2 linked regions of the Homo sapiens genome follow. The protein of the gene in region 1 interacts with the protein of each later gene in a pairwise test. Each region holds a gene or a part of one and is shown on either strand. Other genes may lie near its edges.

Evidence for each region.
Region 2: the proteins of TRIOBP (region 1) and KCNH2 interact in a two-hybrid assay, tested with the Homo sapiens proteins (one study listed by BioGRID).

What each region holds. Positions count from the first base shown.
Region 1 is NC_000022.11:37,724,035-37,739,289, forward strand, and holds part of TRIOBP (TRIO and F-actin-binding protein), read left to right. Parts: coding exon 1-2,469; intron 2,470-9,263; coding exon 9,264-9,378; intron 9,379-10,364; coding exon 10,365-11,408; intron 11,409-14,573; exon of another isoform or gene 14,574-14,607; coding exon 14,608-14,685; exon of another isoform or gene 14,686-15,255.
Region 2 is NC_000007.14:150,975,253-150,990,712, reverse strand, and holds the start of KCNH2 (voltage-gated inwardly rectifying potassium channel KCNH2), read left to right. Parts: upstream 1-12,391; 5' UTR 12,392-12,799; coding exon 12,800-12,875; intron 12,876-13,357; exon of another isoform or gene 13,358-13,868; intron 13,869-13,954; exon of another isoform or gene 13,955-13,969; coding exon of another isoform or gene 13,970-14,123; exon of another isoform or gene 14,124-14,177; intron 14,178-15,237; exon of another isoform or gene 15,238-15,395; intron 15,396-15,460.

The sequences.
Region 1 (15,255 bases):
TAGAGCTACACGAGACAACCCCACAACATCCTGTGCCCAGCGGGACAATCCCAGAGCCTCCAGAACCTCCTCTCCCAATAGAGCCACACGAGACAACCCCAGAACATCCTGCGCCCAGCGGGACAATCCCAGAGCCTCCTCTCCCAATAGAGCTGCACGAGACAACCCCACAACATCCTGTGCCCAGCGGGACAATCCCAGAGCCTCCAGAACCTCCTCTCCCAATAGAGCCACACGAGACAACCCCAGAACATCCTGTGCCCAGCGGGACAATCCCAGAGCCTCCTCTCCCAATAGAGCTACACGAGACAACCCCACAACATCCTGTGCCCAGCGGGACAATCCCAGAGCCTCCAGAACCTCCTCTCCCAATAGAGCCACACGAGATAACCCCAGAACATCCTGTGCCCAGCGGGACAATCCCAGAGCCTCCTCTCCCAACAGAACCACCCAACAAGACAGCCCCAGAACATCCTGTGCCCGACGGGACGATCCCAGAGCCTCCTCTCCTAACAGAACCATCCAACAAGAGAACCCCAGAACATCCTGTGCCCTACGGGACAATCCCAGAGCCTCCTCTCCCAGCAGAACCATCCAACAAGAGAACCCCAGAACATCCTGTGCCCAACGGGACGATCCCAGAGCCTCCTCTCCTAACAGAACCACCCAACAAGAGAACCCCAGAACATCCTGTGCCCGACGGGACAATCCCAGAGCCTCCTCTCGCAACAGAACCATCCAGCGAGACAACCCCAGAACATCCTGTGCCCAGCGGGACAATCCCAGAGCCTCCTCTCCTAACAGAACCATCCAACAAGAGAACCTCAGAACATCCTGTACCCGACAGGACAATCCCAGGACCTCCTCTCCCAATAGAGCCACACGAGACAACCCCAGAACATCCTGTGCCCAGCGGGACAATCTCAGAGCCTCCTCTCCCATCAGAGCCACCCAACAGGACAACCCCAGAACTTGTATTCAACAGAACATCCCCAGATCATCTTCTACCCAACAAGACAACCCTAAAACCTCTTGTACCAAACGAGATAACCTCAGACCCACTTGTACACAGCGGGACCGCACACAGTCCTTTTCCTTTCAACGAGACAACCCTGGAACCTCCTCATCTCAATGCTGCACCCAAAAGGAGAATCTGAGACCATCATCTCCCCACCGCTCCACTCAATGGAACAATCCCAGGAATTCATCTCCCCATCGTACTAACAAAGACATCCCCTGGGCCTCGTTTCCCCTCCGGCCAACTCAGAGTGATGGTCCCCGAACCTCTTCCCCATCTCGCTCCAAGCAAAGCGAGGTTCCCTGGGCATCCATCGCCCTCCGGCCAACCCAAGGTGACAGGCCTCAGACATCCTCTCCCAGCAGGCCAGCCCAGCATGACCCACCCCAGTCCTCCTTTGGCCCCACCCAGTACAACTTGCCATCCCGGGCCACCTCTTCCTCCCATAACCCAGGCCACCAGAGCACCTCCCGAACTTCCTCACCTGTGTACCCCGCTGCCTATGGGGCTCCCCTGACCTCTCCTGAGCCCTCCCAGCCTCCATGTGCTGTGTGCATTGGGCACCGGGATGCCCCTCGAGCCTCTTCGCCCCCTCGCTATTTGCAGCACGACCCCTTCCCCTTCTTCCCAGAGCCCCGCGCCCCTGAGAGTGAACCGCCCCACCACGAGCCTCCCTATATACCACCTGCTGTGTGCATTGGACACCGAGATGCCCCCCGGGCGTCCTCGCCCCCCCGCCACACCCAATTTGACCCCTTCCCCTTCCTCCCAGACACATCAGATGCCGAGCATCAGTGTCAGTCCCCCCAACACGAGCCCCTTCAGCTCCCTGCACCTGTGTGTATTGGGTACCGAGATGCACCCCGGGCCTCCTCCCCACCACGCCAGGCCCCAGAGCCTTCCCTCTTATTCCAGGACCTCCCCAGGGCCAGCACAGAGAGCCTTGTCCCTTCCATGGACTCTCTGCACGAGTGCCCCCACATCCCCACCCCTGTGTGCATTGGGCACCGGGATGCACCCTCCTTCTCATCCCCACCACGCCAGGCTCCTGAGCCATCCCTCTTCTTCCAGGATCCCCCTGGAACTAGTATGGAGAGCCTGGCCCCCTCCACTGACTCTCTGCATGGCTCCCCAGTGCTGATCCCCCAAGTGTGCATCGGGCACCGGGATGCACCCCGAGCCTCCTCCCCACCCCGCCACCCACCCAGTGACCTAGCGTTCCTGGCACCCTCACCTTCACCGGGCAGCTCTGGGGGCTCCCGGGGCTCAGCGCCTCCCGGGGAGACCAGGCACAACTTGGAGCGGGAGGAGTACACTGTGCTGGCCGACCTGCCCCCACCCAGGAGGCTGGCCCAGAGACAGCCAGGGCCCCAGGCGCAGTGCAGCAGCGGGGGCCGCACCCACAGCCCTGGCCGTGCAGAGGTGGAGCGCCTCTTCGGGCAAGAGCGCAGGTGAGCCCGGGGGTGGGGTCAGCCAGGTGGGCTGGGGAGGAGGCTCGGCAGCAGGACAGGTGAAGGGTTAGGGTGCCAAAAGAAAGTGTTCAAATCCCCCTGGCTTGCCATTTACCGGCTGTGTGACCTTGGGCAAATCGCTCCATTTCTCTGTTTCTGCATATTGGGAGTTTTCTGTTTTGTGTGTGTGTGTGGTTAAGTGATGTCATGCACAGCCCAGTGGTTAACAGCAAAGACTGCAGTCAGGAGGGCTGAGTCCAAATCCTGGGTCAAAGCCACATGTCAACTCGTATGACCTGATATAGTGAGTTAACCTACCTGAGCCTCAGTTTCCTCATCTGTAAGGGAGGGGAACATGAGCACATTCATTCAAATAAGGGTGAACTGTCTTTTTATTTTTTATTTTTTGTTTTTTTTTTTGAGGTGGAGTTTTGCTCTTGTTGCCCAGGCCGGAGCGCAATGGTGCAATCTCGGCTCACTGCAACCTCCACCTCCTGGGTTCAAGCGATTCTCCTGCCTCAGCCTCCCGAGTAGCTGGGATTACAGGCACGTGCCACCACACCCGGCTAATTTTTTTGTATTTTTACTAGAGACGGGGTTTCGCCATATTGGCCAGGCTGGTCTCGAACTCCTGACCTCAAGTGATCCACCCGCCTCGGCCTCGCAAAGTGCTAGGATTACAGGAGTGAGCCACCGTGCCCGGCCAAAATGAGAGTGAACTCTCAAACCCTTTGATCCAGACTCATGGGTTTTTTTTTTTTTTCTTCCGTGCATGAGGGAGAAGAAGAAAGTACCCATGATTTTTTCCTGCCTTGGCAAAGAAAACTCATGGGTCCCTATGCATTTCAGAAAACAGTTATGTCAATTTAAAATGTATGGCCAGGGCCGGGCACGGTGGCTCATGCCTGTAATCCCAGCACTTGGGGAGGCCGAGGCGGGCGGATCACAAGGTCAGGAGATCGACAGCAGCCTGGCTAACACGGTGAAACCCCATCTCTACTAAAAATACAAAAAATTAGCTGGGCATGGTGGCGGGCGCCTGTAGTCCCAGCAACTCGGGAGGCTGAGGCAGGAGAATTGCTTGAACCTGGGAGGCGGAGCTTGCAGTGAGCCGAGATCGTACCACTGCACTCCAACCTGGGTGACAGAGTGAGACTCCATCTAAAAATAAAAATAAAATAAAAATGTATGGCCAGAGCTACCTATTTTAAGAAAGAAAGCTCACAGAATTATGGATTTTTAGCAGTCAAACATCCTGGGACACCTGAAGTCCAGGTGTCTTTTGAGTCTCCTTGGTCAGCAGCACTGGCCCCCTGGAAGGGGAGCATTTCCTCCTGATCAGGCTGAGGTTTCTCTCCCCAGAAGTTCCAGCCCTCGAGTTTTCAAGAATCAGAGCTAGAATTCCATTAGTTAGGGTCAAGAGAACAACAGCAACAAAAAGCAGTCTGGAAGTCTCAAAACTTTCCATGTATATAATTCAACGAATTTTTAGTTTATTTACCAAGTTGTCCAACCATTGCCACAATCTAACTTTAGAACATTTTCATCACCCTAAAGGGTATGGAATATTTTGTATCTAAAATTCCTCTTTGCTGCTCCTTGGGAAAGTTTTCTCCTGGATTTGAATCTGCATGAGAAACCTTATCAGTCTTGGCTGGGTGCAGTGGCTCCCTCCTGTAATCCCAGCACTGGAGCTTGCAGTGAGCCAAGATCATGCCACTACACTCCAGCCTGGGTGACAGAGTGAGACTCCGTCTCAAAAAAAAAAAAAAAAAAAAAAATTAGCCGGGCATAGTGGCACACGCCTGTAGTCCCAGCTACTCAGGAGGCTGAGGCAGCAGTATTGCCTGAATTTGGGAGGTGGAGTTTGCAGTGAGCTGAGATTGCGTCATTGCACTCCAGCCTGGGCAACAAGAGTGAAACTCCATCTCAAAAAAAGAAAAAAAAGAAACTTTATCTCTTGTTCTTCAAATTTCCTTTTCCAGTAAGCTTGATCATTTAATATCCAGATGACAACCGTGTGGTCTCCAGCATTAGTATAATTCTTTCTTTGGCCTTAAAAACAAAAACCCAGAGCAGTTTTAGGTTTACAGCAAAATTGAGCAGAAAGTGCAGTGTTCCATGCACAGCCTCTCCCACTACCAATATCCTGTACTAGATAGGTATGCTTGTTTCCAGCTCCTGGCCTCAAGGGATCCTCCTTTCTTGGCCTCTCAAAGTGCTGGTGAGCCACTGTACTGGGCAGTAGGGTGATACATTTGTTACAATCCATGAACCTACACTATGAAATCACCCAAAGTTTAGGGTTCACTCTTGGTGATGTACAGCCTATAGGCTTGAATGAATGTATGACAAGTATCCACCATTGTAACATCATGGAGTAGTTTCACCCTGAAAGTCTTCAGTGTCTTTAACTTTTTTTTTTGTTTGGAGATGGAGTCTCGCTCTGTCACCCAGGCTGGAGTGCAGTAGTGCAATCTTGGCTCACTGCAACCTCTGCCTTCTGGGTTCAAGCAGTTCTCCTGCCTCAGCCTCCCGAGGAGCTGGGACTACAGGAGCATGCCGCCACATCCGGCTAATTTTTTTGTATTTTTAGTAGCGACAGGGTTTCACCCTGTTGCCCAGGCTAGTCTTGAACTCCTGAGCTCAGGCAATCTACCCACCTCGGCCTCCCAAAGTGCTGGGATTATAGGCGTGAGCCACCGTGCCTGGTCTGACCTTTTTTTTTTTTGAAACAGGGTCTTGCTTTGTCACCCAGCAGTAGTGCAGTGGCGTGATCATGGCTCACTGCGGCCTCAAACTGCCAGGCTCAAGCGATTCTCTCACCTCAGCCTCCTCAGTAGCTGGGACTACAGGCGTGTACCACTATACCCAGCTAATTTTTCTACTTTTTGTAGAGATGGAGTCTCACTTTGTTGCCCAGGTTGGTCTCAAACTCCTGGCCTCAAGCAATGCTCCCACCTTGGCCTCCCAAAGTGTCTTTGACCTTTTTATGATTACTATTTCTTGTCTAATGTCAATTTTCCTAACTTTGTCTTAACTAATAACTCAGCAGGGACATTAAGGTCTTTAAGCCAAAGTTAATTAATTTTCTTTCCTTTTTTCCAGGATAATTTCAGAGAGATAAGGTGTTTATATTAATAATAGAAATGAGAAATATGTTTACACTTTTATTAACCATTTGTTTTTACACGATCACTCCTATACATTTAATTCTACTCTCTTTGAAATAGCTTATTTACCTTTTAGGGAAGTTTTCATAATTTTACTGAATAATTAAAATTTTTCCTCTTATCTGGCACCTTTTCCAAGTAGAAAACCATTCATCCTCTGAATATGGAAAATTTTAAAACTGTGCAGTGTGTGTGTAAGGGACAGACTGGAGCTTATGAGCGGGTGGCTGTAGGAGTGTGCTTTTATTTTCTCCTATTTCCTCATCGATATGTATTTATTGAGCATCTACTCTGTCCAAGCATTGTCCCGAGTCTGGAAAATTTTTCTTAAAGGGTTGTCACATCAAAGCATTGGGAGTTTTGGCTTGATCTTAATTTTTTTTTCCTTAGATGCCTTTGGCATCTCTTAGAGTCACGTAGCATCCTGTGGTCATTTGAATTCAAAACCTAGCCTTCACTGGATTTGCTAGACTTGATGGCTTTGCTCCTTTAATTCTCTCTGGAGGTCGAAGAACCCATCTAAGCTTCCGAAGGAAACGTTTCCTTTGTCATGCTTGGTGCGGCCACATCAACCCTCGGGAACAGGTGGCCCCGAGGAGACGCTGTTGCTTCAGCATCGGACAAGCCAGGTCTCTGTTGGGGTTTCAGAATCTTCTTGAGTCCCTCACTCTTTTCTCTCAGTTCTACATGGGGGAAAAAAGGAAGGCGAGTTCTCAGGAGGAATGCTCATCAAGCAAGCTGGAGTTCGTATGGAAAATGCATCCATCCGGAAGAGAACACACAAGTGCCTTGCTTCCCTGCACCGGGTGTTTCCACTATTGTCCTCCTGGTCCTCCCCATTAGGGAGGAACAGCCCACTGGGTCACGTCTGGGCTCTTGCTTCATCGAAGCTCCTATACCCCAGTTCGGGGGAAAATTCACTCTAAGGCCTTCAGCTCTCACAGAGTAAGGAAACGCACTCACCTCCAATTAGATTACAAATTGGCTGGGTGCAGTGGCTCATGCTTGTAATGCCAAGACTTTGGGAGGTCAAGGCAGGTGGATTACCTGAGGTCAGGAGTTCAAAATGAGACCAGCCTGGCCAACATGGTGAAACCCCGTCTCTACTAAAAATATAAAAATTAGCTGGGCATGGTGGTGGACACCTGTAATCCCAGCTGCTCAGCAGGCTGAGGCAGGAAAATCACTTAAAACCAGAAGGCGGAGGTTGCAGTGAGCTGAGATTGCACCACTGCACTCCAGCCTGGGTGACAGAGCGAGACTCCATCTCAAAAAAAAAAAAAAAAAAAAAGTTACAAACAGCCTGCCCAGGGAGCCCTCAAGCTCAGAAACACTTCCTCCAGGGAACTTTGGTTCCTCTCCGAACCAGCTGCCAATAACTGCTAACAACTAACATTATTGTGCTTTATGGCTCTGATTCTAATGACATTGGCAAAAGACATGAAACAACAAAAAACTCCAACCCCATACTTTTTTTTTGAGACAGGATCTTGCTCTTTCACCCAGGCTGGAATGCAGTGGCATGATCATGGCTCACTGCAGCCTCAACCTCCCAGGCTGAAGCGATCCTCCCACCTCAGCTTCCCAAGTAGCTGGGACTACAGCCACGTACCACCATGCTCGGCTCATTAAAAAAATTTTTTTTTCCTAGAACAAGGTCTCATTCTGTTGCCAGGGCTGTCTCAAACTCCTCGACTCAAGTGATCCTCTGACCTCAGCCTCCCCAAGTGCTGGAATTACAGGTGTAAAGACACTGTACCTGGCCTCCCAACCCCATATATATATATATATATTTTTTGAGACAGGGTCTCACTATGTCACCCAGGCTGGAGTGCAGTGGCGCGATCTCAGCTCACTGCAACCTCCACCTCCTGGGGTCAAGCGATCCTCCTGCCTCAGCCTCCTGAGTAGCTGGGATTACAGGCACGTGCCACCACGCCTGGCTAAGTTTTGTATTTTTAGTAGAGATTGGGTTTCACTATGTTGACCAGGCTGGTCTCGAACTCCTGACCTCAAGTGATCCACCCACCTCAGCCTCCCAAAGTGCTGTGATTAGAGGCATGAGCCACCACACCTGGGCTAATTTTTGTATTTTTAGAGACTAGGTTTCACTATGTTGTCTAGGCTGGTCTTGAACTCCTGAGCTCAAGCCATCCGCCTGCCTCAGCCTCCCAAAGTTCTGGGATTACAGGCGTGACCCATTGCGCCCTGCCCAATCCCATACTTTTGAAGGTGTCGTTCCAGCATGGCTCCTCAGGCACAGGCCCACCACAGACAGCAGGGCCTATGGAGGCCTGAGCAGAGTTTCCTCATACTTCCCTTTTTGCTGCCTCACTCTGGGTCCACCACAGGGTGGCCTTTTTCAGGCTTCTCTTCCTGGTTCAGTTCATCGACCAAAGACATGGCTCCATTTGCTAACTGAGACCCAACCAAAATAAACATTCATGGAGTGGTTGGGCCTTTTGTTGTGACCCCTTAGGTAGAGGAAGGGAGAGATATGCCCAGGTTCTGTTTGGTGTTTCTACCTGTCAATAGAGATACCACGTTAATCATTAACAGCCATGCCTCCCAGTTAGTAAGCAAGACAACTAACTGGAACTAGACTTTTTACACAAGTTAGAGATGATCTTCATCGGATGCGTCAACAATGCCTGAAGCCCAGTGTCTTAGAAACAACACTTGCCCAGGGTCAGGCGTGGTGGCTCATGCCTGTAATCCCAGCTACTTGGGAGATTAAGGCAGAGAATCACTTGAACCCGGGAGATGGAAGTTGCAGTGAGCCGAGATCGCGCCACTGCACTCCAGCCTGGGTGACAGAGCGAGACTCCATCTCAAAAAAAAAAAAAAAAAAAAGACACTTGCTTGGACAGTTTATGTTGGCCTCTCTGAAGTTGTCAGGGAGAATGTTTCTTTCTTCTGATCTTGCTCAGAGCTCTTTTGCCAACAGCTAGGATGGCCTGGAGTTTTCAAGGCTAAGCGCTGGGATTCTGTTGGTTAACAGTGATGGGAGGGAAAAAGGAAAAGAAATCCAAAATTTACAATATGGACAGGAAAAGGCAGAAAGAATGGAACACGGGGGCACACAGCAGTCTGGCTCTGTCGTCCCACCTCGTGGGCTGCGATCATGATACAAGTGCTTGGCCCCTGGAACATAAGAAGCACTCAATAAATGCTTTGTCATAATGATTATGTGTGCCCAGTGCCTGGTACACAGTAGGTGCTCAATAAATCTTAATTCCCGCAAAGACCAGTCTAACCTTTGTCTGGGGGTGGCTCTTGGGCTGCTGGTGGGGTGGTGGTTAGTCATAGGAAGTACTGGATGAGACAGGAGAGGGCCATGGCCAGGGCCAGATCCCCCTCCCCACCCAACCGCCTCTACTCCCCACTTTTCTCGTCATGTTCGCAAGAGCCTCATGAGGCAGAATAGAGCAGTGTTAACCATCCCCATTTTTCAGAAGGGGAAACTAAGGCCCTGAGAGTCATCCTCACTTAGGGCCCTTCAACGAGCTTGCAGTGGGTCCCTGGCTGTCCCACATCTCCTCCTGTTGGAGGTGGGAGCAGAGGGGCTGGGGTGCTGGGAGTGGGACAGTCCCTCAGAGGAGTGGCTGCATTTGCTCATAGGAAGTCCGAGGCAGCGGGGGCCTTCCAGGCCCAGGACGAGGGACGGTCACAGCAGCCCAGCCAAGGCCAGAGCCAACTTCTCCGAAGACAGTCCAGCCCTGCCCCCAGCAGGCAGGTGAGCACTGCCAGCTGTCTGGGGCCCCGCACCCCAAGGGGCGGCCACTGCCTCTTCCCTCCCGCTAGAAGCCAGGCAGGGGGCTTGGACAGGAAGGTCCTCTATGAAAGGGTCGGAGTCCAATCATGGGGATCCAGCTCTCCCCTCTCCCCAACGGCCAGCAGCTCTTGGCAAAATGCACAAGACCCCACATTAATCCTTTGAAGATAGCCCCTCTCCCACGCTATCCCCTTCCTTTACTAAGCACTGCTGTCTTTTTTTTTTTTTTTTTTTTTTGAGATGGAGTCTTGCACTGTCTCCCAGGCTGGAGTGCAGTGGGACAATATTGGCTCACTGCAACCTCTGCCTCCCAGGTTCAAGTGATTCTTCTACCTCAGCCTCCCAAATAGCTGGGATTACAGGCGTGTGCCACCACACCCAACTAATTTTCGTACTTTTAGTAGAGACAGGGTTTCACCATGTTGGCCAGGCTGGTCACTCCTGACGTCAAGTGATCCGCCCACCTTGGCCTCCCAAGGTGCTGGGATTACAGGCGTGAACCACGGCACCTGGCCAATACTGCTGTCTTGAGCAGATTTCAGGGAAAGCCTTGAAGCAAGAATCTGGCTCTAAGGGCCCTCTCTTTCAGGGTAATTTGTATCTTTAACCAAACCCAGAGGGCTAGGCCCGCCTCAGTGGAATGGGGTATTGGTGGTGGAGGTTCTGGCACCTGATAGCCCAAGTTGGAATCAGTATCTTTGAGAGGGGTGAGAAGCCAAGAACGGGGGCAGGTCTTTGCAGATCTTTTTCTGGAACTGAGGAAAGCGGGTGAAAGGGAGGAGCTGACCCCGGAGGGGTGGGGCAGAGACCCTGTGTACTTTTTGGCCTGCTTTGATTCAGGCTGCTGTGTGGACACAGCCTTGACTCTCTGGGGGCCTAAGAAAGGCAGAGCTGGCAGCCAGGTCCCCAGAGAGAGAGCCTCACCTACCCCCTCACCTCATCCCCAGGTGACCATGCTCCCTGCCAAACAGGCAGAACTGACCCGGCGGAGCCAAGCAGAGCCCCCTCATCCTTGGAGTCCTGAGAAGAGACCTGAGGGAGATCGGCAGCTCCAGGGGTCCCCGCTGCCCCCCAGGACATCAGCCAGGACCCCTGAGAGGGAGCTGCGGACACAGAGACCTCTGGAGAGTGGCCAAGCAGGCCCAAGACAGCCTCTGGGGGTGTGGCAGAGTCAGGAGGAACCGCCAGGGTCCCAGGGCCCTCATAGACACCTAGAAAGGAGCTGGAGCAGCCAGGAGGGAGGCCTGGGCCCTGGGGGCTGGTGGGGATGTGGAGAGCCCAGCCTGGGGGCAGCCAAAGCCCCGGAGGGAGCATGGGGGGGCACTTCCAGGGAGTACAAGGAGAGCTGGGGGCAGCCAGAGGCCTGGGAGGAGAAGCCCACTCATGAGCTCCCCAGAGAACTAGGAAAGAGAAGCCCACTCACGAGCCCCCCTGAGAACTGGGGAGGCCCCGCAGAGTCCTCACAATCCTGGCACTCTGGGACACCCACTGCTGTGGGCTGGGGGGCAGAGGGAGCGTGTCCATACCCGCGTGGCTCTGAGAGGCGACCCGAGCTTGACTGGAGGGATCTGCTTGGCCTTCTCCGGGCACCAGGAGAGGGGGTCTGGGCCCGTGTCCCCAGCCTGGACTGGGAGGGCCTCTTGGAGCTCCTGCAGGCCAGGCTGCCCCGCAAGGACCCAGCTGGACACAGGGATGACCTGGCCAGGGCTTTAGGGCCAGAGCTGGGTCCCCCAGGCACAAACGATGTCCCTGAGCAGGAGTCACACAGCCAGCCAGAAGGCTGGGCCGAGGCCACCCCAGTCAATGGACACAGCCCCGCACTGCAGTCCCAGAGCCCGGTCCAGCTGCCCAGCCCTGCCTGCACCTCCACCCAGTGGCCAAAGATCAAAGTGACAAGAGGACCAGCGACCGCAACTCTGGCAGGCCTGGAGCAGACGGGCCCCCTGGGGAGCAGGAGCACTGCGAAGGGCCCCAGCTTGCCAGAGCTGCAGGTAAGGAGGTTTCCACCCTCCCAAGGGTAGCCAGAAAGTCAGCCCCACTCAGCCAAGTCTCCTTGGAAAAGCCTCCCCTTGGAGTAGCCTAAGCTCCTGCATCCCCCTCCAGGCTCAGACCTCAGCCTCCCTGCTGACCACAACCCATCCCGATCACCAAACTGGCCCAACAATGATGATGAGCAACACAGTTTTAAGCGTTTATGGGCCAAGCCCTGATCTGAATGTTTGACGTGTGCTTTTCCCATTTAGTCTCCTTAGCAACCAGGTGAGAAATACACTATTTACAGATAAGGAAACTGATGCGCAGGGTGAAGCCACTTGCTGGTGGGGCATGGGCAAAACCCAGGTCTGCTCAGTGCAGACCACACTGAGGCCTCAAGCAAGATGCTCTGGCCAGGGCCTATTCCCCTCCTGGCTCCACCATACCTGGTTTATGTTGTGTCTGGTGGCACACACCTGACCCCACCTGGGACTGTAGCCAGTGTGGGCATGCCCCTTCCCCTGGTGGTACTCAGGTACCTGAGTCCAGGACAGCCTCGCTTACCCTCTCTGGCCCCTACAGCTCCTCTCAGACACAGAGAAGAGGGTGCATCAATGCTCACTGGGTTCAGCTAGCTGCCAAGACAGGCTGCTTAAATGAGGGTCGTGTGCAAAGTGGGCCCAGCGCCGGGCACACAGTAGGTGCTCGCCCTTCCCCTGCTTCACTGGTGCTTTGGTGCTGCCTTGAAGCCCAGAACATTCTTCATCTGAAGATGGTGGGCAGGGAGGGTCTTGGAGGCCAGAATCCTGCACCCTGGCAATAGCTCATTGGGAGGACGGCATGTGGTTTTGAACACCAGCCTCTCTCTCTCTCTGTAAGATGGACCAACCACTTCTCTGACGGGCAGCGCTGGGGTGCCGTGGGGGTTCCTGCTTGTTTCTCCAAAGCCTCCTCATCTCCTAGATGCAAAGTCCAACGCCACCTGCCCCAGGATGAGCAGGGCTTCCAGGCATCAGGGTGCACCCCGTGCTGGGCCCAGGGCCTTGCCATATGTGCCTCAAGTGGATAGGAGGCAGCTGCCACTTGACAGATGGGGAAACTGAGGCTCAGACTCCTTAGGCATTTGCTGGGGGTCACACATGCATAGGTCGTGAGAAATGAGATCAAAGCATCCACTCCAAAGTTTGTGCTTTTATTTTTATTTATTTATTTACTTATTGAGACGGAGTTTCGCTCTTGTTGCCCAGACTGGAGTGCAATTGCACAATCTCAGCTCACTGCAACCTCCGCCCCCCAGGTTCAAGCTATTCTCCTGCCTCAGCCTCCCGAGTAGCTGGGATTACAGGCATGTGCCACCATGCCCGGCTAATTTTGTGTTTTTAGTAGAGATGGGGTTTCTCCATGTTGGTCAGGCTGGTCTTGGACTCCTGACTTCAGGTGATGCATCCACCTTGGCCTCCCAAAGTGCCGGGATTACAGGTGCGAGCCACCATGCCCGGCCTAAGTCTGTGCTTTTAGCCACCACGTCACAAAGCTCCTGAGCCCATGGGAGGACTGGAGAACCCTCTCCCCTGTATTTCCCTGTGGCTTTGATGAGTTGACCCTCCAATCAACTCAATGCGTGGACATCAGAGAAGCAGGGATAAGTCAGCTCGTCCTGCCCTCAGATTGCTGTCAGGCTTGTTAGGAAGGCACACAGACAGCTCAAGGAGGACACGGTGCTGTGTCCCGGGGCATGCTGGGTGCCACAGGCCGGCCAGGTCAAGAAGGAAGTTAGAAAGATTCTTCAGTTTCATGGTGAAGCTCAGGGTTCTCAGGAGGCTAGGAGATGGTGGCTGGGAAGGGATGGGAGCACCATGTACTGAAAGGAATTTCACAGATGACAAAACGAGTAACCACCAGGTCCTGCTGGGGCTCCAGCTGCTCCTCTCTATGAAAATCCTTGGCTTGGCACAGCTGGGTGCAGTGGCTCACATCTGTAATCCCAGCACTTTGGGAGGCTGAGGCAGGCAAATCACGAGCTCAGGAGATCGACACCAGCCTGGCTAACACGGTGGAACCCCGTCTCTACTAAAAATACAAAAAATTAGCCGGGCGTGGTGGCGGGTGCCTGTAGTCCCAGCTACTTGGGAGGCTAAGACAGGAGAATGGTGTGAACCCGGGAGGTGGAAGTTGCAGTGAGCCGAGATCACGCCACTGCACTCCAGCCTGGGTGACAGAGCGAGACTCCATCTCAAAAAAAAAAAAAAAAAAAATCCTTGGCATGGCACTCAAGGCCGGCTTCCCTTCCTTCCACTCCGGATTTGCCTCATTGGTGCTGAGCTGGCTGCAGGGCCTGTGAGCACATATCCCTGCCTTTGCACATGCTCTTCCCTGTTCAGCCACCAAACGCCTGTTCATTGTCGAAGTCTTAGGTCAGGCTCCCTGTCCTGAGAAGCCTTCCCTGAACAGTCACTCCTAGTAATGGTCCCCTTCTGGGCTTGGCAGTTTTGCTTCCATTTGTCCATGCAACATCCATCTAATAGGGTTGTCATTTCCCCATAAGCTCCACACAGGCAGGATCTCTACCTGCTTTATCTCTGTAACTCTAGCTCTGGCCCAGGGCCTGACATAAAGGAGGGGACAGCTCAGTGGATGCATGCAAGATGGAGGACACAGGGGTCAGTGGGTGAACAATGAATGAATGGAGGGTGAATGTGTGAATGGATGATGGATCAATGATGCATGTTGAATGAATAATAGACATCTTTTGGATGGATGACAGATGGGTGATGATGGATGGATAGCTGGGTGATGAATATATGGTGGTGGTGGATATATGATGGATGTTGCTTAGGTGATGGATGGATGAACTTTGGGTGGAATATGAATGGATAGATGTGGCATGGGTGGATGAATGTCAGATGATAGATGTTGGAGATATGGGTAGATGGATGATGGATGGAGAGAGGGATATGTAGGTATTGGGTAAATGGATATGTGATGGATCAATGGAGGGTAGATACATGAATGGGTGATAGACAATGGATGATGGGTACATGAGAGGGTGAGTCATGTGATAGACACTGGATGGTTGGATGGATACATGGATCTACTGATGCTGGACGTTAGATGGGTGTTGCATGGACAGATGATAGAATGGATGGATGAGGTGGACAGATGCATGCATCCTGGAGAATAAGTTGGGCTAAGCTGTGTTCTTTTTTTAATCTCCAGTTCCAACCAGAGGAGCCTGAGGAGTCAGAACCAAGCAGAGGCCAAGACCCCCTGACTGACCAGAAGCAGGCAGACTCGGTAGCTGGGTCATGGGTGTGGGTACATACGGTGGGGAAGGGAGGGGGAAGCAGGTTGGAGATGGGCTTCATTCCTCAGAAGAGCCCTAGAATCAACCAGACCAAAGTTGGCATTGCCATGGGGTCATCTATGTGCATGGTGGGGCCTTAAGAAGAGGGGCTCTGCAGGAGCCACCTTCTGGCTTGGGGACCTGGGTAGGTGGGCGATCCTGGGGTCAGAACCCTAGGCCATGCTTCTCATTTGCTGGGACTGAAAAGGTCAATGTCTTTCCCTGCGCAAATGATGGTTTGGCCCCAGTGGTCTCTGTGGGAAGAGATCCTTCCGGTTTGAAAGGGCCAGGCCAGGCTGAAAGAGCAGGGCTTCCACGAGCAGGAGCCAGAGAGCTGAGGATGTACCCAGTCAGCCAGGCCTGGAGGGTCTCCAGGGTCCTGGAGGCGGGAGAGATATGTGCGGGGGTGGGACCCACGGATGCTGCTCTGAGGCCTGGCTGCAGCTGGTGAGCACAACTCTGCCCGCCCCTCCCCGTGACCTACCAAACAGACTGTTCTCGTCACCCTCAGCCTCCAGAGA
Region 2 (15,460 bases), on another chromosome or scaffold:
ATTTATATCTGAGTGCTATTTCTTTTGTGGCACCGAAAATTTATTTCTAACACTTAGACAGTAACTGAGCCCCGGGGCGTCTGTGGGCGTAACATCCCCCGCTGGGCTGATGTGAGGCCCTTCTTCTTCTTCCCTCCTCTGCAGGTGTGAGCCTGGCATTGTGGGCCTGATCCTTCCCCTGCCCAACTCACTCCTGCTCCCGGTCCCTGTTATCTTTCTCAGGCATTGCCCGCAGTATTCCTCTTATGCTTCCAACTCCTGGGACTCTGCTTCCTGAAGGACCCAACCAACACAGTCGCAGGATGACTCCTCTGTGAGGTCTTCCTTACGTCCCCTTCTCCATGATCTCTGGGTGGCTGTCACCCTGTCCCCAAGGCCCCGGGGACAGCTCTTTCTCTGGGCCCTCCTGGTCGTGGTTTTTGGGCAGCTTGCTCTGTAAGTGTGGGTTCTCACTTAAATGAACCTGTGTGCTCTGAACCTGTGTGCTCTGGAAGACACAGGTCAGTTCCTCTCTGTGGGGATCCTCTGCTGGGTTGAGCTCCTGCACTGAGTGGGATTGCTTCATACATTGGCTTGTTTTGTTGCAAATGTGTGCAGCCGCCTGGGGACTGGAAGCTGTGCTCTGGAGGCAATGGAGAGGGTCCACTGAGAAGGGAATTGGCTGAGGCTAGATGGGTCTGTGTGGGCAGAAAGAAGTCAGTCTAGGTGAAGGGGAGGAGTGCAAGAAGGAGCACTCTGTGGCCACAGGGAGGATGGGTTACAGTTCAGTACAGCCAGCACTGAAGGCTGAGGGTCACAGGGAGGATGGGGTCCAGTTCAGTACAGTCAGCGCTGAAAGCTGAGGGTCAGAGTAGGCCTGGATTGGGTTTGAATTGGGGCAGAGGATGCCATGGCAGGGTCTTAAGAAAAGGAGGAAAAAAAAAAGTTAAACAGACAGAAAAAGTCAGAGATGAATGCTCTCTGGACAGGGGATTCCCTGCTTCCCCTTTCTTGGGCCGTGGCCAGTGTTGTCCGGAGTGTCCTGCCTTCCATCAGGGTGCTCTGATGAGAACAGTTGATTCCCCCGCCTGTCGGAGGAGGCCTGCCGTCCCCAGGGCTCTGCCTGGTGCTGGCCTGCTCTATGCCTGCAGCCCTGCCAAGAATGATGCCCATGCATCTTAGTGGCTGACTGCTCATATTGGTAACCATGTTTTAAAGAGGACTTTCCGAAAAAACAGTTTTCAAGGTTGGAGATTTGGTGTTCGGCTGAAAGAATTTCCATCTTCAATCATGAGATCTGAAGCTGAATGGGCTTTGGAGATGATCTGGTTGGGAACTGAGCCCCCTTGTCCCTGACAGTGGCTGTGTTTCCGCCTCGGGGAGGGCTGGCCCAGACCCCAGGGGTAAGGTGACAGCCTTCTGTGGGTGAGTAGGGATCCCTCCCTGGGGAGGGCTGTGCCCTGTGCCCCCTGCCCCCTCCATAATGCCAAAGAGGCGGCAAATCTTGCCCCTGCCTTCCCTCTCAGACCAGAGTGCTCTGCAGGGCTGGGCGGGGGACGCCTTGACCTTGGAGGGCTGTGCTGGGAAGGGAAGGCCTTGGGCCTGGGGTGTGTGCATGGGGGCCTGGGTGGTGAGGGCAGGGGTGACTGAGCGGAAGTCCCTGACTCTTTATAGCCCAGCCCGGGGCTGTTCAGTGTGAGCTGGAAGTACCCCACCCTTGCACTATGAGCAGCTTCCTTCCTGCCTGCTGGCAAGGACGGGTGGGGAGCGGGGAAAGGAGGGAAGGGAGGCGGGAGCAGCGGGAGAGGGGCGGGGAGCAGCTGCCGCCAGGCCTCCCCCTCCCGAGGATGTAACTCATGCTGAGTGCTGGGGGGCGGAGAGATTTGCTCAGCTTCCAGATTGCAGAATTGGTGCTGAGCCTTTGGTGAGGGCGTTGGGGCGGCTTCTGGGATGCTGAGGGTTCCGGGCTGTGGACGCGGTTGCCGGTCTGAAGGGGCTCCTGTGTTGATCCTGGGCGCCCCCTGGTAGCCCCAGCCCTTCTTGAGACAGCCACATGAGGGCAGCAGAGAGCCGAGGAGGAGCGATTTCAGCACAATCGTGGGATCAGACACCACGAAGGGAGGGGGAGACCCAGGGGATAGGAAAGGAGCCAACGGCATCGGGTGGTAGGTCTACACCAGCCATCTGGGGTCCCAAGGTGGCTCATTTGGGCCCACCCCCAGAGGAGCAGATTGGGACAAATCTGCGCCTCCCTGCTTCCTGCACAGACCACATGGGGTGTGTCAAACCGAAGGCTCAGGAGGTATCTTCACATACACACGTACACGCACACACATACATCCATGCATGCATGCACACTTTCTTACACATATATCCATGCATGCATGCACACACATACACATATATACATGCATGCATGCACAGTCACACACACATACATCCATGCATACTCTCTTACACACACAAATGTTTCGGGGAACGTTTGATTTCCCCACAAATTCATAAGTTGAGATCCTAGCCCCCAAGGTGATGGTGTTAGGAGGCGGGGTGTTTGGGAGGTGTTGAGATCGTGAGGGAGGAACCTTCCTGAATAGGATGCGTGCCCTTAAGAAAAAAACCCCAGAGAGATCCCTCACCTTTCCATCATGTGAGGACACAGTGAGAAGGCGCTGTCTATGAACATGGGTCCTCACCAGACCTTTCCATCATGTGAGGACACAGTGAGAAGGCACTGTCTATGAACCGTGGGTCCTCACCAGACATGGAATCTGCCAGCACCTTGATCTTAGACTGCGGCATCCAGAACTGTGAGAAATAAATTTATGTTGTCTTTAGGCCACCCGGTCCTTGGTGTTTTCTTACAGCAGCCTGAACAAACGGACACACACACATACATCCATGCATACGTGCACTCTCTCTCTCTCTCTCACACACACACACACACACACACACACACTCAGGGCAGTGGTGTTGAAGGAAGAATCTAAACCTGAAGGTTGATCAAGGCCTGGAGATTCTTGCATTTCCCTTGGGAAGGTGGAAGTTGGTCCAGACTCCCAAGAGCCCCCAGAGGCTGGCAGACCCCTGCCACTGCCAGGGTAAGGTCTTGGGTTTCCAGGTCACTGGGTCTGTCAGCCAGGAGGCAGAAGCGTCTCTGGAAGAGGTTCACCAGGCTCTGCCCCAGGGAGCCCACCTGAGGGCGGGGCAGCATCTCCCTGTGCCCCCTCCCTGCTCCCCAGCTGGGGAGCTCCCCCCCTCACAGTTTTGCAGTTGTCCATGGGTTGTGCATCCTGGGCTCCCTCACTGACCAGCCTCCTCATCTGGGCCCTGCCCCTCCAAAGCTAATTTGGGCCAAGAGCATCTGTGTGGATATGAAGGCTTTCCCATCCGTGGGAACTTGAAATTTCCTCCTTTTTTTTTTTTTTTTTTTTGAGATGGAGTCTCGCTCTGTTGCCCAGGCTGGAGTGCAGTGGCGTGATCTCAGCTCGCTGCAAGCTCCGCCTCCCGGGTTCACGTCATTCTCCTGCCTCAGCCTCCCGAGTAGCTGGGACTACAGGCTCCCGCCATCAAGCCCAGCTAATTTTTTTGTATTTGTAGTAGAGATGGGGTTTCACCGTGTTAGCCAGGATGGTCTCGATTTCCTGACCTCATGATCCGCCCGCCTCGGCCTCCCAAAGTGCTGGGATTACAGGCGTAAGCCACAGCGCCTGGCCGAAATTGTCCTTTATTCCGGGGATCCAGAGTGAGAACGAGGGGGTTTCAGGGGCAGGCTGAGGCCTCCTGAATGCTCACCATAGGTGCCCTGTCTTGGGCTCTGAAGGCCCTACATACAAAGTCATCCTATCTGCTGAGGCAAAGATATAAGGTTACCTCGGACTTGAGACGGATGGTTGTCAGGGATCCATCTGACAGGCCCTGCCCCCTTCCTGCCTCCTCCTGTCTCCCTCTCCTGCCACCCTCAGCCTGGCCCAGTTTCCTGGCATGGTTGCTGTGGCGCCTCTTGGGAATCGGAGCTTTGGGCCTCAAGTGTGCCCAGCATGGAAATTCCACAGCAACTGTCACTGGGATCGTCTGGACAGAACCCTCTCAGGTGCCCCCAGGAGGGGCTGGGCCCTCTCTCCAGACCAGGGTGGGAGGAGCAGCCTTTAGAGCCCCCTGCTGATCTGTGAGATGTGGAAATCCTGACTTCAAGCCCTGGAGAACCTTCAGTCATTGGTGACTTGTCTTTTTTCCTGCTCTCCCCAAATGGATTACATGCCCGACTCCCAGTGACCTCCCAGAGGCGTCCCTGACATATTTGCTGTTGATGATGACCTGAGGCTTCCGAGGGGCTCCCAGGAAATGGGGTTCCCAGTCTGTCGTCTGGTTTCCTAAGCACCAGCCCCGTCTGCGCTGGGCACTGCTGAGCCGGGCACTGCTGAGCCGGGCACTGCTGAGCCGGGCACTGCTGAGCCCACTTCCTAGAGGAGATGTTGTTCTGCTGCGCGGATCCAGAAGGGGGAGCTCTCAGGGCCTGTTCTTCTTCAGCCGGGAAAGATCGAATGCGCTCTTCCTGGACATTTAGCGCCCCAGCATTGCAATAGGCCTCTGCCGTCACCTTCACACCCTCACTGGCTCTGTCTGGCCCTGCACTGGACTGCTGGTCCCCCAGAGGGACAGAGATGAGGTCCTGACCACAATTCTCAGCTCAGCCAAATTCTCCCTAAGCCTTCCTCCCTTGCGAAGCCTTCCTCCCTTGTGAAGCCTTCCCTTATCCTTCTGGCCTTAAAACGATTCCTTCAGACCCTGAAGTCAAAGCATTCATGGTCTGTCCGGGCGCCGTGGCTCACACCTGTAATCCCAGCACCTTGGGAGGCCCAGGTGGGAGGATCGCGTGAGCCCAGGAGTTTGAGACCAGCTTGGGCAACATGGGGAGATCCTGTCTCTATTTTACAAAAATGAATAACATTTTTAGAAAAAGAAAAAGCATTCATGGTCTGCACCACTTCTTAGACTTGGGATCTAGGACTGTGTAACTTCTCTTGTCAGCTGCCATTATTTGTATTTGGCTCCTGTAATATTGTCTAATCATGGGTGAAAATATTGTCTTCTCAACGAATTGCAAATTTTGTAAGGCCAGGGACTGTATTGTATATCATATATTTCCTTAGGAACACTTCTCAGTGGGGGGCACATAGAAAGCTCTGGATAATTGTTTGTGGGTATATCAGGGAGAAGATGGAGTGGGAGACCTGTTTGTTTATTGTTTTTGTTTTTGTTTTTTGAGACAAGGTCTCACTCTGTTACCCAGGCTGGAGTGCAGTGGTGCTATCACGGCTCACTGCACCTGGGCATGGTGGCTCATGCCGGTAATCCCAGTACTTTAGGAGGCTGAGGAGGGTGGATCACTTGAGCCCAGGAGGTCAAAACCAGACTGGGCAACATAGTGAGACCCTGTCTCTGAAAAAAAATGCAAAAATTAGCTAGGCATGATGGCGCACACCTGTAGTCCCAGCTGCTTGGGAGGCTGAAGTGGGAGGATCACTTGAGCCCGGGAGGTCAAGGCTGCAGTGGGCCATGATTGTGTCACTGCACCCCAGCCTGGGAGACAGGGTGAGACCCCATCTCAGAAAAAGAAAAGTTAACAGGTAGCTGCAGCCTTGACTTACCTGGCTCAAGCGATCCTCTTGCTTCATCTTGCTAAATAGCTGGGACTACAGGTGTGTGCCATCACACCCAACTAATTTTTTCTTTTTGTAGAGATGAGGTCTCGCTATGTTGCCTAGGCTGGTCTTGAACACCTGGGCTCAAGCCATCCTCCCGCCTCAGCCTCCCAAAGTGCTGGGATTACAGGTGTAAGCCACCGTTCCTGACCATGCAAGACCTATTTGAACCTGAGTTCTCTTCTCAGGTCCTTGGTGTTGGCTGACTCAGCAGCTGATGATCCTTGGGATGGGCTAGGATATGAAGCTAGTGTTGGGTTAGCATTTTTATTCCAAGCTGGGGTAGGCTCTTAATTCTGCCCGATATCAGCAGAATGAACAGCAAAAGTTCTGGAGAGCTGACAGAGCAACCTCTGTATCTGGAGTTCTCTGGTCTCTCTCTCTCTCTCACACACATATCTCAAATTTCTTTAGCTCTTGTTATATGTGGTATGTAATCTCCCACCTGGCCTGGTGTGGTGGAAAAATCACTTAACTAAGAACCAGGAGACACTATTTTATGTCCAGCTCCATTTCTAACTTGTGGCACAACCTTGAGGCGGAGTCCTTGTCACTGTGAATATCTGTTTTATTGTCTAATATATGAAAGTGTTTGCTTCTGGCTCTAATATTTCATAAAGCAACAGAAACTCCCAAAGGAAATCCCAAGAGTTGCAAGTGTAAAGTTCAGGGGTTTATTCATATCTTTTCCTGATGGCTGTCAGAGGAGTGAGGGAGGAAGGCACACTCTGAAAGCACATGAGACATGGTTTTCTCAGCATTGACTGGCAAACCCAGCTCTTGCTTCACCCCGTGCTGCCTCCAGGAGCTACTGTCCAGCTCCAGAGGCATTTTCAGGATTTGGGGTGACCATCTAATGCACTGTGTCCTGAAGAGTGCCTCAGTCTTGTCACCTGGGCTGCCCTCCCTGGTTTTCTGCTGAGCCTGCCGTAAAGTATTTTCAGCACCTTGGACAGAGACAAAGCTCCAACCTGGCTGGAGGCATTGAGTAGCCAAGTGAGCTTGGGATCTCCTCCAGGGCCAGCTTTCCTGGCAAGGTTGCCCAAAGCATGTCTTGGTTCTTCATATTTTTTAATCCTTTGAAGGCACTCAAAAATAAACCCCCTAATATATGTCAAAACAGTGCACTAGTTCTGCAAACTCTCAGGGCATTTTTTAAAACAAAACCAACCTATTTTCTAGAATAGTGTTAGGTACACATTAGGTGCTTAGTAAATACATTTAAAAAGGAATACATGCAAATTCAACCTTCAGACAAATGTCCCAGCCTCCTTATAATAGGATTCTTTCTCCCCATCAGTCCCTCCTATATAGTAATTCTGGAGCTTCTAGTACTTGCTAAGTTTTGCAGCCTCACTTGAAGCCCCTTCTTGTGTCTAAAAATCCCAGTCTTTAAATCAAAGGAACAGATGACTATTAAGTTTTCAGGCAGAGGAAACTGAAACTGGCCCCTTCTCTTTCTCATCTGGGGGTAAGTATAGATTGGTGGGGAAACCCACACCTGACTCCTCTTGGGATCTTGCTTTATGAAGATGTTCACCACCTTCCTTTGTACCTGAGAAAGCCCTTACCATGCAGAAGGACCAAAATCGCCCAGGAAATTTTCCGAGCTGACCCAGCCCACTCAGAGCCCTCCTTCTTCTGAACACCCCTCCACGTATCCTCAACATCACCAGATTGTTCTTCTGACATTTCATATCCAAGTTTTTTCATGCCTATTGGTTCTTTTCCCGGTTAGATAATGAATTCCCTGTGTTTGTGGTTTCCAGTTAGATGCTACTGTGATGCAAACACAGCAGATAAAATGGGAGATTGATCAGTCTTGGGGGCTTCTATCTTGTCCTAAGGGGTCTCCTGCACCACTTATTTTTAGTCTGACATAAATATGCAGGATGGATCATGGTGCTATTTGTGGAGTAACCATTGGCTCCAAGTGCACCCAGGATGAGAGAGCAGAGGCAAGAGGTGGAGGTGAAGATGGCTATTGAGGAGAAACAGAGGAACCACTCATGGGTGGGTGTGTTGCTGTGTGGAATTAAGGAATCACTCACTGCTAGAGCTGGACGGGATCTCAGAGATCAGCTTGTTTGGTCTCCTCATTTTACAGGTAAGGAAAGTGAGATTTAGTGGTACTCCTAAAGTTACACAACAAATGGGCCCTTTTCCATCACCTCTGACCTGGTTCAAGTGTTGGGCATCTCTCCCTTGGACTATTGTATTGCTCTATGTGGCAGATGATATTTTCCCAAGGTGGTCGTGCCAATACATATGCTTTTCTTCCAGTGTGACAGCAACACCCCTCCACTGAGAGGTGGGGGTCTGTGTTTGTTCTCCTTGCATCTGATGGGTCACGATTACAGCAGAAGTTGTTTTATGTGATTTTTTAAGGCTAAGTTATTCAAGGAGATACAGCTGCTGACTGGTCTTCTCTTGGGACACTGGCCCTTGGAACACAGCCACCATGCTGTGAGGGAGCCAAGTGGCCACACAGAAGGGCGTTGTGTAGCTGTCTGGCCCCAGTCCTAGCTGAGGTCCCAGCCAACAGCCAGCACCAACCACCAAACGTAAGTAGATGAACCTTCCAGTCTCTAGTTTGGAGTAAAGCAGAGAAAAGTGGTCCTGGTGGAAACTACCCCAGTTGCAAATCCATGAGCAAAATATATCCAACTAAACCACTGGATCTTGGGATGGCTGTTATGCAGCAATAGGTAATGGAAAAACCTCATATCCACCTCATTTTCTCCAAACTATTATACACGTTTCATTCAATCAACAAACCTTTCTTGGATACCTACTCTTTGCCAGGGTCTGTACAAAGACAGAATATTTACATTCATGGATTCTGCATTCAGCTGCCACTACTGTTTCCTTACTGTTTCCTGCCACTACTGTGTCCCCCTTGCAGAGATAATAAAATTCATAGTCCTCATCCCTCTGCAAATGGTGCCAGCCTGCTGCTCCACTGCCACCACATCAAATTATTTTGTCCTCAGACCCAATCTCCATTCTCCTTTCTTTATATATCCTTATGTTGTCTCTTCTATCTGCAATGCTTCTGCCCTGCCCCACCTCCAACGTTCAAGGACCTGCACTGAAATCTCCTTCCCTGGCAAGGCCCTCCAAGACTCCTCCGGTTGAAATTAACCAACACCTCCTCGTAATCCCACAGCACTGACTGCAGACTGCAGTTTCTGTCTGCCCACCGTCTCCCTCAAAACTCACTAGACTGTGAATCCCTGGAGGAGGGATCCTGGCTTATCCCTCTTGTCCCCCAGCAGTGTCTGGCACAGGGCCCAGTACTTAGAAAGCCCCCAGTAAACACTTGTCGATGCAACTAGTAGCAGAACCAGAATTAGAAGTCAGATCTCCCGAATCCTAGTCTCCAGGGCCTTACTTGCTTCTTTTGACACCACAAAGGCAGGGAAAATGTCCCACCAAAGGTGGGGATCAGGTTGTCCAGAGAAGACCTTGGAATGGACCAGGGGTTGGCAGGATTGCTACATGTGGAGCTGCAGAGGGCGATGAGTGAAGAGTGTCCTGGCTCTTGGCTAGGGGTTTCAGGCGGGTTCCTTCCATCCTTTCTTCCTTCTTTCTTTCCTTCCTACTTCCCTTCTTTCTATCAATAAGCCCTGATCATCCACTTCTGGAGGGGAAACATGCTGTTTCTTTGATTCTTTTCTTCTCCAACTCCAGTTCACATCTGAAAAAAATCTCTATTCTGGGGACCCAGTTGCACAGAAAAACAAAAAAAACCCACCGTGTTCAAGCATCAAGGGACCTGCTCACTCTGTTCTTCCTTCCCCAGGGTTTCCCAGGAACCATTGCTCTGTAACCTGTCTCTCCTGTGCCCAGCCGACTGGAACTGCTTCCCAATCCCCTGTGGGTAACCCCAGGCTCTCCTGGGCCTGACTTTGGTGGTGTCTTGCCTGGCCCGCTCCTTGGGGGACCTCTGGCAGAGTGGGCTTCCATTTCTCTTTCTCCTTCCAGGATGTCCTGGCTCCATGCCTTCGGACTGAGCAGGAGCAGAGAGCAGGGTGGGTAGGATGCTTTCTGCAGACTTTTCTCCCTAAATTGTTTCTTTTTGGGAGCTGGGAGGAGCCTGGATATCTCACTGTAGCCTCTCTGTTCCCTCAGTCACAGGCAGGGTGCGGGAGAGCTCTTCCCAGGAATGGTCTCTGAAATGGCTCTTGGAGCTGAGATGGGGGTGGGGCAGATTCTAGAGGCTTAACAGCCCAGCTCTTGGTATTAGGGTTGGGCACTTTTCTCTTTGTCCCAGATCTGGGGGTAGCAGAGGTGGGAAGTTGAAGGCAGTGGGGGCTTCTCCATCAGCTCATCTGAGGCCCAGAAATGTTGCTTTGGGGAGAGCTTGCCCCCTCTCACCGTTTCTCTTCCTCAGCTCAATTCTTGAGTGTGGGGGCGGCTAAGTGGGTCTGCCTTCAGGCTCTACCCTGAGCCTCCAAGGAAGTCAGAAATCTACATTCAGCTTTGACTTCTGAGTATGTGGAGTGGGCTGGGGGGAGAGAGGGAGAGATCTGTCTCTCCTCAGCTTGAGGGAACAGCTCTCTTCTTGCCTCTGTGCACAGAAGGAGGGCTACCCCGTGCCTGGGCTCCTCTCTGTTTGGGAGGATGAAGGGCTCCTCTGACTCCTGTCTTCCCTTTGGGATAAGAGCAGAGGCCTGTCCCAGCAACACGGGTACAGGAGTGGAGGACAGCTGGCCAGCTCAGATGAGTGGCTCCTTCCCTTCAGGGCCTGGCTCTCCCTCTCCCTTGGTCTGGAGAGAGGGGGAGGCTACAGATGTCCCTTTCCCTTCTTGCCCTCCCATGCCCATTCTCAGCTGCTGGCCTTTGCTCACTTTCTCTCCATCCCCTGGCCTGGACAGGAGGACACTTCACTCACACATGAATCATCCTGGATTCATGGTAGGCAACCCAGCAGCCAGGGGTGGCCTTGGGGCGTGGCGGGGGCTGGGCCAGTCGTGGACTAGGTTCTACCCGGAACCCAGATGTGTTGATGCACCTGATGCCAAATGCTACACCAAGGAGGAGCTTGTGCTGTGGAAGGCCCTGGGCCCCCGGGGGGGTGAGTGAGGAAACTGCTGGCAGTGGAGAGGGCCTGAGGAATAACTGCACAGGCAAGAGCCTCTGGACTTTTTTAGCATCAGCTGTGGAGCCACCTCCTTCTCTCCCACTGGCTGCCTCCCTGAGTCACTGCCCACCCACCAGCAAATAAAAAAGAGTGTCATCTGCTGGCCAGTGGCCCCATTTGGCCCCAGTGTTTGCATCTTTGTGCTCCTGGGTGGAAGGTGAGAGTCCGGGTAGGGTGGTCTCACGACGACAGTTTTCTGCGCCTTCCTCCTTCGGGACTCCGATTCCTTCCCTGCCCTTTGTTCTTCCCCTCCCCCCATGATGGTTCTCGCTGGTGACAAGACCCAGCCCCTGCTCCAAGGACAGAGGCAGCTGCAAGCCCTCAGGAGCCCCCACATGGCCCCATCCATCTAGACAGGTCTCTGATCCGGCTGCAGGGAGGGGACCCTCGGCTGTTCAGCTGCGACTCCTCCCTCCCCGCCCGCCCACTCAGCTGTCAACACTCGCCTCCCCGCCCTGGCCTTCCCGGGGCCCTGCCTGACTGCTAAGTCCGAGGACACCGCGCCCGGAGACCCTCACTCAGACGCAAGCAGGCGATGAGCAGGCGGCGGGGCAGACACCCCGCCTGCCCTTGAGCATCCCTAGGCCTCCTTGCCTAAATAAGGGAGCCGCAGCTGGAGCGAGCCAGCTGGCCGGGGGGAGGGGCCTGCGGCTAGGCCAGGGCTTTCCGAGGGGCTGGGCCGTGGCCGCCGCCGCAGGGCCCCGAGCCCGCCGATTGGGCGTGCAAGGCTGGCCCCGGGCTGCCGGGGGAGGGCGGGCCGCTCGCACCCGGGGATCCCCTGGTTGGAACCTCGCGCTCAGGGACCTCTCTTTGATCCTGCAGCTAGGAGGCCGCAACTGCTGTCAGAATGTCCCTCTCTGTGCAGCTCCTATGCAGAGCCCCACAGAGGGCTCTCTCTCTCTCCGTGTGTGTGTGTGTATGTGTGTGTGTGTGTGTGTGTGTGTGTGTGTGTGTATGTGTGTGTGTGTGTGTGTGTGTGTGTGTGTGTGTGTGTTGGGGCAGGGGGCGTGCCCCTTCTAAGTTTAACCCTCCCTTATTTCAGAGCTCTGCTGCTCTGGGGCCTTCAGATTGTCTTGCTTTTCCTATTTCCAGGGTCTCCCTTGACTCCGGGCTCGTCTTCGAGGGTCCAGGCGTTGCCCCGGTCACCCACAGTAGGCACTGAGCGCGTGCTGTGTATACCAAGCCAGTGCTCGGCGTGGTGGGGAACCAGGGCATAAGGACCCGCCGTTTCCCTTCAAATCAGGTTTCTTAGTCGCTAATCTGGGGTGGGGGTGGAATCCCTTCCCCCATCCCGGCCGCCTACAAGCCGGCCATGGCACCTGTCCTCACGGTTTCCCCTGCCTAAGGGTCCCTTCCCCCTCTTCTGGGCGCGCGAGTCCCAGGGGCTCCTTGGCAGAGCGAGGGGCTGGCGTTGGGGGAGCACTCGGCGCGGCTCAGCCAATGGGAAGGTCGGGCGCGCGCGGTGGGGCGGGATGGGGGGGGGAGAGGGCGGTGCTGCGGGCGCGCGGCAGGCGGGAGGGGGCCGGGAGGCGGGGGCCGGAGCCGGAGGGGCGCGCGCCGCATTAACCCTTCCGCGGCCGGGCCGAGCCGCAGGCGCTGCCCGAGCCGCGGGCGCTGGAGCGGCTGTCGGCGCGGTGGCAGGCGGGAGCCAGGAGTCCGGGGCTCGGGCGGGCGGAGCGCAGCGCGGGGACGCGGCGGAGCGGGCCCCGCGGCTCGGCGGGGGCCGGCAGACAGGTGTGCCGGCGGCGGGCGGCTCGCGCTCAGGCGGCTCCAGGCCGGGCCCGGGGTCCGGAGCGGGGAGCCGGGAGCCGAGCGAGGACCCGGCGCCCGCAGTCCAGTCTTGGCCGCGCCCGTGCTCGGCTTGGCCGCGGGGTGCGGGGACCACGGCCCGGCCGGGCCACCCGAAGCCTAGTGCTGGGCCGGGCCGGGCCGGGGTGGGTGGGGGCCCGCCCGGCCCGCCCATGGGCTCAGGATGCCGGTGCGGAGGGGCCACGTCGCGCCGCAGAACACCTTCCTGGACACCATCATCCGCAAGTTTGAGGGCCAGAGTGAGTGGGGGAGGGGGCTGAGCGGGGAGGGGGCTCTGGGGGCGGGCCGAGCTCTTCCGAGTGTGGATGGGGGGGCGTGCCCGGGCCGTGTGCGTCGGCAAGTGCGAGTCAATGGGGCCTGGTGGGCCCCAGGCTTTGGCGAGGGGACGGCGGGGGCAAGGCTTGGTGCACCGGGGCCGTGGGCACCGGGCCAAAGGGTTTGGGGTTGGGGCTTGGGGCGGGAAACTCAGCTCAGGCTTTTGGGATCGGAGTGTGTGTGACACGCTGAGTGTGCAGGGAAGGGATGTGGGATGGAGTGTGCAGGTGTCCCCAACTCTGGGTGCGTGGACGTGGATGGGGCTGTGTGCAAGGGCATAAGAGTGTGTACGACCCAAACCCTGGGATCCCGAGAGTCCAGCGCGCACACTGGTCTTGCCAGATCTTGACTGTGTTGTGCCGGAGGGACTGAAAAGCCGTGGATGCAGGGTCAGCTCATAATCTCTTCTTGTGTGTGCCGTGTGTATATAACCCTGAGCCCATGTGTCACCCGTGAGTTAGACCCTGTATGGGCGGTGGGGAGGTGTCTTTGACAAGGCTGCGAGCTTGTGGGCTCTGTGGAGACAGGGTGTCCTGGGGCTAGAGCTGGGCTTTGAGGGTAAGCAGCTCCCTGTGGTACCCCCAAGTTGTGGGTTTTCTTGCCCTGGAGACTGTCACCTAATTCCCTTATGGGGACCGGGAGTACAGCACCCCTAATGCCTGCCTGGTAGGGAGGCTTCTAGAAGGGTCCCAGATTAGGCAAATGTCCTGGGGGTGGGCAGCATTCATGTGCCTGTCCCTAAGGCTGCATGAGCCACAGTGGGTGTGACTGCCAAGGGCCCTGGGAGTTGGGAGAGGATGACATTCCTTGTCCATGACCCTGTGAGCACAGGACAACGCGTGCTTGTAACGGTGGTTGGGGGAAGGAGGGGTCAGTCCGATGGTCAGTATTGTGTGAAGCGGAGGAACAAGATGATCCTGAGGGGGTGGAGACAATGACACTGGTTGAGGGCCTCCCTGAGAGGTGGGGGTGGGCCCAGGGGGAGGCTGTGGGCGGGCCTACGAGGAGGCTGGGATGGATGTGGGGGGGGGTGCTGGATTCTAGCCCTACCTTTGCCACTGACTGCCATGTGACCTTGAGTGACTCTTCCCTCTTTGGGTCTCAGGTTCCAGGTCTGTGGAGGAGGGGCAGGCTTTCTGTCCCATCCCTGTATTCCAGGATCTCAGTGAAGGGTGTGTGGTGGGGTGGGGCATGCCTTCGAAGAAACTTGCTCTTCTTTCCCCAGCCTGGGAGAGAGGACAAGGGGTGGTTTTTCTTCTATGAAGCTGGGGTGTGTGGCTGGGCCTCTGGACTGCCTTGGACTGTGGCAGAGCTGGAGGCCGAGTTAGGGGGTCTTTTCAGGTGACAGGAAACCCTGACTCCTGGAATTGATGGCTGCCTGGGAGGTCTGGGGGGCCTTGGGAACTGGCCAAAAGATGAACCAGTTCCAAAAGGCAACTTTCTGGGGGCCAGGGGAAGGGAGAATCGAGAAAGGTGGGAGGAGGCCAAGTCCTGATGGCCTGGGCCTATCTCAGGGTGCCCTGCTGCAGCCCAGCTTTGCACGTAGGATTGCCTAGGGCTGCAACCTGAGGGCTATGCTTGCTGGGGAGGGGAGGGGAAGGGAGGGGGAGAATTCCAACTGCTACTGAAAGCCCCAGCATTACAGGCCAAAGTGGCCGGAAACTTCTGTTTATAAAAAGCTCTTATCCCAGGAGCATCTTGCCTGGCACAAGTGAGGCTGCTGCCTGCCTGCTGCTCACTCGCCAGCCTGGCTCTCCGGGCAGGCCTGGAGTCAGGGAGCCAAGTCTGGCAGAAATGGAACCATGGGGGTGCTCATCCAGGATGAGGCCAAACTGAGGAAGGCCTCACATCCCTGGGCAGGTCCCCTTTCTTGGGTCTGTTTTCCTACAAGTGGGGCCAAAGTCTCAGGCCCCGCCCAGGCTCCAGGTGTGTCCAGGGTTTGGAGCTGCAGGTCCCTCTCTTTGCTTCCTATGACCTTGGGCTTCTGCCTGTGACCCTCAGCTTATTCTTCTGCCTCTGCCAGACCAAGGTTCAAAAGCTGGCTCTATCATTTACAAGCTGCAAGACTTGGGCATGGTGCCGAACTTCTCTGGAGCCTTGGTTTCTTCATCTATAAAAGGAGGATAATAACACCTACCTTATGGGGTTGTCAGAGGACCTAATGAGATGCAGCGTCCTTAGGTGTTCAACGTGTAACTTCCCTCATCCTCTCTGGCACACCCACCCCTCAGCTCCTGACTGCCCTTGGGGCGGGGGTGGTGTGCAGAAGTTCTAGGGGGTACTGACCTGGTAGGATCCTCAGATAATCGGGGAGTGATTTCCTAGGGAGCCTCAGGATAAGGAGTGGCTCAGGGAGCGCCCCCCAGTCTGGAGAGCAGGGAAATTAAAAGCAGAATCCAGAGAGCCGATGCAAAGGGAATCCTGGCCGCCATCTCTGGCCTTTCCCAGGCTCCCTTTCTAGGCCCAGTGTTTATCCCTCCGCCGCGGCTGCTGACACGCGTTGCTGACA